2 linked regions of the Homo sapiens genome follow. Changing the gene in region 2 together with the main gene of any one other region gives a genetic interaction. Each region holds a gene or a part of one and is shown on either strand. Other genes may lie near its edges.

The links.
Region 1: of MCOLN3 (region 2) and PTP4A3, changing one suppresses a phenotype caused by changing the other (phenotypic suppression), as found in Homo sapiens cells (one study listed by BioGRID).

The regions. Positions count from the first base shown.
Region 1 is NC_000008.11:141,426,506-141,430,020, reverse strand, and holds part of PTP4A3 (protein tyrosine phosphatase type IVA 3), read right to left. Parts: intron 3,083-3,515; coding exon 2,952-3,082; intron 2,272-2,951; coding exon 2,197-2,271; intron 1-2,196. UniProt on the Homo sapiens protein: Protein tyrosine phosphatase which stimulates progression from G1 into S phase during mitosis. Enhances cell proliferation, cell motility and invasive activity, and promotes cancer metastasis.
Region 2 is NC_000001.11:85,045,415-85,049,928, forward strand, and holds the start of MCOLN3 (mucolipin-3), read right to left. Parts: upstream 3,087-4,514; 5' UTR 2,982-3,086; intron 2,852-2,981; exon of another isoform or gene 2,844-2,851; coding exon of another isoform or gene 2,774-2,843; intron 2,196-2,773; exon of another isoform or gene 2,161-2,195; intron 1-2,160. UniProt on the Homo sapiens protein: Nonselective cation channel probably playing a role in the regulation of membrane trafficking events. Acts as a Ca(2+)-permeable cation channel with inwardly rectifying activity.

The sequences.
Region 1 (3,515 bases), on a different chromosome or scaffold from region 2:
GACTGTGCGCTCACCCTGTCCCCGCCACCTGGTCCTTACAGCGGGGACGTGGGCTGTGCGCTCACCCTGTCCCCGCCACCAGGTCCTTACAGCGGGGACCCGGACTGTGCGCTCACCCTGTCCCCGCCACCTGGTCCTTACAGCGGGGACCCGGACTGTGCGCTCACCCTGTCCCCGCCACCTGGTCCTTACAGCGGGGACCCGGACTGTGCGCTCACCCTGTCCCCGCCACCTGGTCCTTACAGCGGGGACCCGGACTGTGCGCTCACCCTGTCCCCGCCACCTGGTCCTTACAGCGGGGACCCGGACTGTGCGCTCACCCTGTCCCCGCCACCTGGTCCTTACAGCGGGGACTGGACTGTGTGCTCACCCTGTCCCCGCCACCTGGTCCTTACAGCGGGGACGTGGGCTGTGCGCTTACCCTGTCCCCGCCACCGGGTCCTTACAGCAGAAACCTGGGCTGTACACTCACCCTGCTCCCGCCACCTGGTCCTTACAGCAGGGACCTGGGCTATGTGCTCACCCTGCCCCGCCACCTGGTCCTTGACCACATGTACCTGGCTGGGGTGAACAGGAAGACTTCCTGGAGAGGATGCTGCAGCCACACCTGAGAGGCCCTGAGGTGACAGGCGTTGAGGGGCGGGGGCTGCCCACCCAGCGCCTCTGGAGGCTCATCCATCCCCACCTGCCATGACCTCAGGCGTGGCCACAGGCTGGCCCTGGCCAAGGAAGTGGGAGCAGCAGTAGCGCGAGGAGTCTCTGCCCAGCAAAGCTGCAGGTGCCCCGTGTGGCTCCACCGTGCTCGTTTCCTCGCCCAGCAGCCGGCACACTGGGGAAGGCGCAGCCCTCAGCCACGCCTCCGGGTAGGGCCCCCACCAACAGACACGCAACAGGGGCAAGAAACGCCCGTGCTGTTCTGAGTCGTTGGGGTTCAGGCCTGGCTGTTTCCGCAGCATGGCCCAACCTGTCCTGACCAGCGCAGCCTCAGGTGCGGGGAGCCACACAGCAAAAGCCACAAGGGAGAGACAAGCCCTTGCTCGGTGAGACGTGGGGTGGGGAGAGAACCCGGGGAAGGTGTGCACCCGCATGTGTGAGAGTGCATGTCATGTATGAGTGCACACGTGTGTACATGCCTGAGTGCATCCATGTGTGTCCATGTGTGCAAATACCCGCTTGTCTGTATGTGCCTGTGTTCACACACCTGCCTGTGAGTGTGTGCCTGCGTATGCCTGGGTCTGTGTGGGCACACATGTGCTTGTGAATGTGTGCCTGTATGACCCCCATGCGTGTCTGTGTGTGAGCGTGCACATCCCATGGTCCCCAGGGAGACCTGAGCACCTGCAGGCCACGCTCTCGCACAGACCCACAGGGCGGGCCACGCTCTCGCAGACCCACAGGGCGGGCCACACTCTCACACAGACCCACAGGGCCAGCTGGCATGGCTGGGAACAAGCCTGCCTCTGGGAGGAAGAGATGGCCCCACCAGCCAAGCCTGTCCGAGGAGTACCACAGGTGTGTCACACTCACGGGCACACACATGGTGGGCTGGGCAGGGGCAGGCTTCAGGTGCCGCATCCGTTCCTCCAGAGTTGGCCCTGCCATCCCGGCCAGACTCCCCCAGGACCCCCTGGGCAGTGGGCAGATGGCAGCCCTCCCCAGGGAGGCCACCAAGTGACAGGGATGGGGCAGGCGAGCTGGCCTAGAAGCCTCTAAGGAGGGCGGGGAGGGGCTGAGCTGGAGAGCTCGGGGTTGGGGGGAGGGGTGGTGAGCAGCTAGACTCAGAGTAGTCCTGAGACACTAGCCCACTGTCAGCGTCCCTGGGGGTGGACACGGTGTGGTGTGGGGTTTCAGGTTCTAGTTTTTCATGGAGGGACTGAACTGGCTGGCTCTGGGGGTCCTTCCACCCCCGTCAGGATGGCTGCGACAGAAGGAGCTCTGTCTGTGGAGGGCGGGCAGGACGGCGTGGCGGGTGGCCTCGCTGTGTCCCTGTGTGGCTGCATGGTCACTCGGGGGCTGCTGTCCCCACCCATCAGAAACACCTCAGGCTTCCCCGTTTCTGCAGCAAGGCCCAGCTTGTGCTGATCGACGCAGCCTCAGAGCGACGGAACCACACAGCCAATGCCGCCACCCTTCGTGGGCAGCCGGATCTCCCCTCCCCCAGCGCTCACAGCCCACCCCACCACCGCGGCCACTCACTGGCGGATGAACTGGATGGCGTCCTCGTACTTCATCCCGCTCTCAATAAGGGCCAGCGCCACAAGGACTGGAGCCCTGGGGGCAAACAGCAGGGCGGGGGTCATCGGAGCCTGCGCACCCCTGTCCCCTTGGCAGGGCACCTGCTGAAGATGCAGGGCACGGGGGCCCAAGGGGCCCAGAATCCCCCCTGCCTGAAGCTCCCCCATGGAGGCCACAGCCTCACAGCCCAGCCTGAGCACTGGGTCTAAATCCTGGCTCCCTCCTAGGCAACCTCTCTGTGATCTGCTGGGGGAGGGTTAAATAAGAGCTGGCGGGTGAAGTGCTAAGAGCCGGATCCATGCCTGCTATCAACTCTGCTCGCCTGGGTCTCCCTCTGCAGATGGGGGTGTCCCACTGGTCATGTCATCCGATCCCAGCTGCCATTCTTCCTCCCGTTCTCCCAGCAGGGAGTCTGAGGCCCCAGCTGTGTGTGGGGGGATCTTTGTGTCTGGAGAGGGGGACGGCAGCCCTTTCCTACACAAGATGTCAGGATGGTTTCAACCATAGCAGGAAGAAGTTGGGTTAGACTTTGGGAAGCACTTCCTCTCTGTGATGCTGGGAGAGGACCAGTCTGGGAGCCCCAGCACTAGGGGCATGGGCCTCCTGGGAAGGTCGCGTGGACGTGTGTTCAAGACCCACATCCAAAAGCGAGGCTGTCAGACCACGAGATGCCCAACCACCTGACATGGCGAGCCCTACCCCGCCCCGACACTCACCGGCCCAGGCCCGCCACGCAGTGCACAGCCACGCAGCTGCCGGGGGCCTCACAGAACTTGGCCTTCACCAGGCTCAGCCAGTCTTCCACTACCTTGCCGGGCGGGGGCGCCCCATCGTCAAACGGCCAGTCCTACGGAGGGAAGCAGACATGAGGACCCCCGGCTGAGGGAGGGTAGAGAGGCGGCTCTGGGGCTCAGGCGAGGAAAGGGAGCTCTGAGAGGCAGAGGGTGCCAGGAGCCCACTAGGGTGGGGGCAGCAGACCCAGAGGGCACACAGGAGGGGCACAGCTTGCCTATGGGCACCCCATGGTGAGTGCTTCAGACTCCTCATCATTCCCTGTACACTGCAGCTATCCCCTCCTCCAGGAAGCCTTCCTGGACCACCCCACCCCTTTCTGAATAGAGCCTGCTCCAGAGTCGCACAAATCCTAATCCCCACACCTGTCAGCCCGAGCTCTGGTTCTGGGGTCACAATCCCTCACGCCTGTGTGCCGGTGGCAGCCTGAGAGGTTTTGGGTCGGCTGGTGCAAAGGGTCTCATCCCCTGTGCTGGCATGCAAAGATG
Region 2 (4,514 bases):
AAGACACAAGTCCATATTCTTTAATATTGCAAGGAGAAGCCCATACAGAAGTCCTGGTTTCAAATAAGCACCATTGCTCTAAACTGCATTTTAGATGTTTACAGAATCAGTTCCAATGTAGGACGTCACTTTTTTATTTGTTTTAATTACAAAGTGAATTTTCACCTAGTTCAAAGTTACCAAATTCAAGGGCTGCTCCCATTAGTAAAAGATTATATGTACATATATATAGGATGTATATGTTTTCTGCCTCACTCAGTATAGTTAGAGGATCAGAGACCTGAGGACCTGGGGGAAGGACTTCAGAGGGTAGGTGGGCCTTGAAGTTATATGAAAACTTTCATATATGTGGCTGTGGACACTTTTTCCTGGGAGGTAACTAAAACTTTCACAGATTATCAAAAAATGTTTAAAACCACCGAGTTAAAGATAGCAGGGTGTAGTGTAAAGAACAAGATTCAGTTTGGTTTCTAATCCTGGTTCCATGACTTGACGTTTCTGCAATCTCAGGGAAATCACTTAGCCCTTCTGAGCCTCAGTTTCCTCTCCAGCAAAATGGGAATAACTACACCTACCCTTCTATGATTGTAGCCAGAATTAAATAGTTATGAGTGTAGAGAGCATTAAATAAAACAGTAAACAAAGCCTTTGCATAGGGTCTAGCGCTAAGCAGACTCACCTACCTAACACCCACAGCAGACAGGGTGGCTTCCTAGAAAGCCAGTAAGGTTCTTAAGGGGCAGTATGAGCCTCAGGAAACATAACTGTTGTACAAAGGGGAAAATGGGCCCTCAATTTAAGCCTAATTCCCAGTCTGTGGCATCGCTTGTAATGACTTTTTATTGAAGGCCTTATATTTATAGCATATTTTCAAAGTACTTCATATCTATTTGGGGGGGGGGGCAGGTACGTTTGAAAAGGGTTGGGTCGGGCTGGTTTTATTGTCTTCAGAATCAGTTTTTTCAAAGTGACGGAGAAGTCACTCTAGAGACTGGGATGGATCTTGGATTTTCCCTCAGACTAAGATTGATATTATACTATGGAAACCTGTTCAAAGTAAAATACCCCAAACAATGAGTAGCGTCCTTCCATACGGAATAGAAAGGCAGGCTTTATTTGACATTTTAATAATAACTTGTACTCAGCAATGAAGAAGGAAAATTGTAACCTGCATTCATACAATATCTTACAAGTCACTGGTTAGATACCATGCTGCTTTCCAAGTCTAGAACCCCACTTTTGATTCCAATTCAAGCATTCTTAGGAAGCCCAACATCTCCGAACAATAGATACTGGCTATAAAGAATAGCATGGGGAAGGTTCTTAAACTCTTGTTAATGAAAAGATTAATAAGGATACTGCTGGATGAATAAACCATAAAACATATTTACTGTATGGCAAATGCAGTACCTTCAAAATGAAATAATTATTATATAACTCATTAAAGTGTGGCTCCTGTGTGCGTGTTAAAATGCCTGTCAAAGCATAAATGCAGTAATTCTTAGGTAAAGGCATAAAGGAAAGAAAAAGTTATTAATAAATTAGGATTTTCACTTAACAGTTTTACTTCCTTCAAAAAGGCAGGATATTTTAACCAGCATTTAAGGAGACTTTATCTATAGGACTTAAAACGCAGATGATTTCATGTTGACCAAAGCTCGCATATGAACACCAACATAATGATGAAGCTGTTAATAAGCATGTTGGTGAGTTGTATATTGACACTAAGCGCTTTCCACTTTGATACAGGGAAAATTAAATTTTAAACAAACTAGCCACACACCATGTACAGTAATCCACAGGAACAAAGAGAAAACAAGCCAACCAGCATATATTCAGCACATCACAACGAGTTGTCCCGGTAGACATTTCATTCACCAGGACCAGATGCTGACCTTGGAAAAGTCAGGTTTACCCAGTCTGAAAAGCCCTTCCGAGGGTGCACTTTTAAAAACTGCAAACTGTCGGGAACCCCAGCAGCTGAAGGAGGTATTCGCAGCCAGCCACCCTTGACATTCACCCGGAGCGCCGGCGCGGGAGGCAGGGTGGGCGAAGGACCCCATCAGGAGAGGCTACCCGACGAAGGGGCCATCCGGAGAGGCTACCGAAGTATCTATCAGGCATGCTCTTAGAAGGAGCAAACGGACACACACAGGTTACCTGTTCCTGGCGGGCAGAGGCTTGATTGGAGTAAGCTGTAGAAAATTGGAGAAAGCCCGGGAGTGTATAAATAGCAAAGGCCTCCCAGTTGGCGACAAAGTTATGCAACCTCGTTTTTTCAGAAGCGCTTTCCCACTTCACCAGACACAAAACTTTAGTCTCTCCAGTCTTCTTTTTTTTTCAAACAAACAAACAACAAGGGTTGACACTTTTGTTGGGTAGTGTGTGCGAGAAAGATCTGCAGGGTTGCAGCGATGTCCCAGAGCGGTCGCTGCCATCCCCGGGCACTGCCGTGGAGCTCAGACGGCCGCAGCCCGGCTGGCGGCTGCTTTCAGCCAGCGCAGCGACCCGGGCCTGAGCCCCCACTTCCAGCCGCCCCCACCTCTAACAGGGGGACAGTCCGCCTTGAAAGGGGCCAGCCGAGCCGCGTCAAGGCCATCTGGAGCCCCGGCCGGCATCCAAGCCTTCCAGCCCAGGGGCTCCGGGCGGGGGTGGCTTCCAGCCCTCTGAGCCCTGGCCACAGGTGGGCGGCGGCCTGGAGGGGGACCGAGGAGCAGAGCACCCCCACCCGCCCAGCCCCGGGCAGGCCCGGCAGGCGCGCTCCTCCACTGACCTGCGGGCGGCTTGGGGGCGGCGCGGAACAGCTGCATCTCGCGCCCAGCTCCAGCCCGCCTGCCCTCCATGGCGCCGACTGCCCGGCCCGGCCTTCCCGCGGCGTCCCCGACAGCTCGCTGCCTCCCGGCCTCCCCGGCCCTCCCTGTGCGCCGCGGGCGCCGTTCCCGCGACACCCGACGCCCCGGGGCAGCGCCCCGCGGGCTCACCTGGGGGACAGCGGGGAGCGGCCGCAGCTCCGGTGTCCGCGGCGAGGGCGCAGGGCGAGTCAGCGAGCGACTCCAGCAGCCTCGAGCCCCGCTCCGCCCAGAGTCAGACGGGAGGAGAGCGCCCCGTCCGCCGCCCGCGCATCCTCCCGCCCCCGCCGCTTTAACTCGTGACCCTACTCCCGGCTCGGGTTCCCGCCGCGCCCTGTCGGGGGCCGCTTTTCAGGAGCACAGGTGGGACGCAGGAGGCCGTCCGGAGGAAGCCGGCGTTGTGCCCGTTCCCTGCCACCCCCACCCTATCACTCCCTTCATTTTCTCCCTGAGCAACCCGCACCGCCCTGCTCGGGTTTGCCAGGTTTGCTCCGGAGCTGCCGCCGGCGCCGGGGGGCCACCCCCTCCTGGCCAAGGCCCCTCAGGTGGTTGCCGGGCTCCGCGGGTGCGGGATCTATAGCGCCTAGCTCCGGTGAGTGTGAGGCCCCGCTGCAGCCTCCCATTCTGATTTTTGCATACAAGGTGAAATCTTGAATGTCTTAGCGTTTCAAGCCTGAACCTTGTTCCCTCCCTGGGTCTTCTAGTTTCAGACAAGTGCTGTGAAATGAGTGGACAGTCGACTAGACTCTTCTGTAGATTGGCGGCTGGGGCAGAAAGAGCCCTGGGAAACTTTTCCAAGAAATGTAAATAGAAATACCTGAAGTAGACTTTGAACCGTAATCTTTTTCTTCATAAATTATCTGTAAATATTAAACCTAATACCCCTTATCAGGATTGGATCAGGAACTTTGGTTAATTTTAATTATAATTACTTTGGATGTGTTCTGATTTTTAATTTTTACTTATTTTTTTTTTTTGGCCACGGGTAAATTTGTAAAGGTCACTGAATTTCCCTACTAGGGTATTCCTGAAATTAGATCGATACCTAGCAAACCTTTTATAAAACCTGTTTTCAAATCCTAAACCAGTATGCATGGATTACTAATAAATTTTTGCAACAGGGTACAAGAATTTTATGCTGTTCCTCAACCTGGATCCCACATACTGTGAACAAGGTAGATACCCAGAAAGGATATAATTGGCACAGTCAATTCTCAAGTGCAATTTGGAAAATATAATGTAATCTTTAATCCCCATATGCCTACACACGATGTAACGCTATCTCCTTACTTGATGGTAAGAGTTTGAAATGCTTGATTGTTCAGGAACAATCTGAACTTTGAAGAGGTTCACAGTCATAAATGATGGCACTTGCTTAACCCTCGTTTTAGCTGAGTTATAAGGACCGGTGAATAGATAAAGCCAGGTTTTGGAGTCAGACAGATGAGGGCCCAAATTCCCTTCTGTGCCACTTATTGGTCTCTAGGGAGTTACTTACCTTCTCTGAACCCCTTTTCTTTTTTATGTGCAATCTGTGAAGTTAGCCGAGAGAAAGGACGAGAGAGAGAGAGAGAGAGGGAGAGAGAGACCGAGAGAGACCGAGACCCAAGTTCAGGCAAGCCTTTATTCAACCTGCCGGCTGCTCCATTACAGACAGAGGAGGCA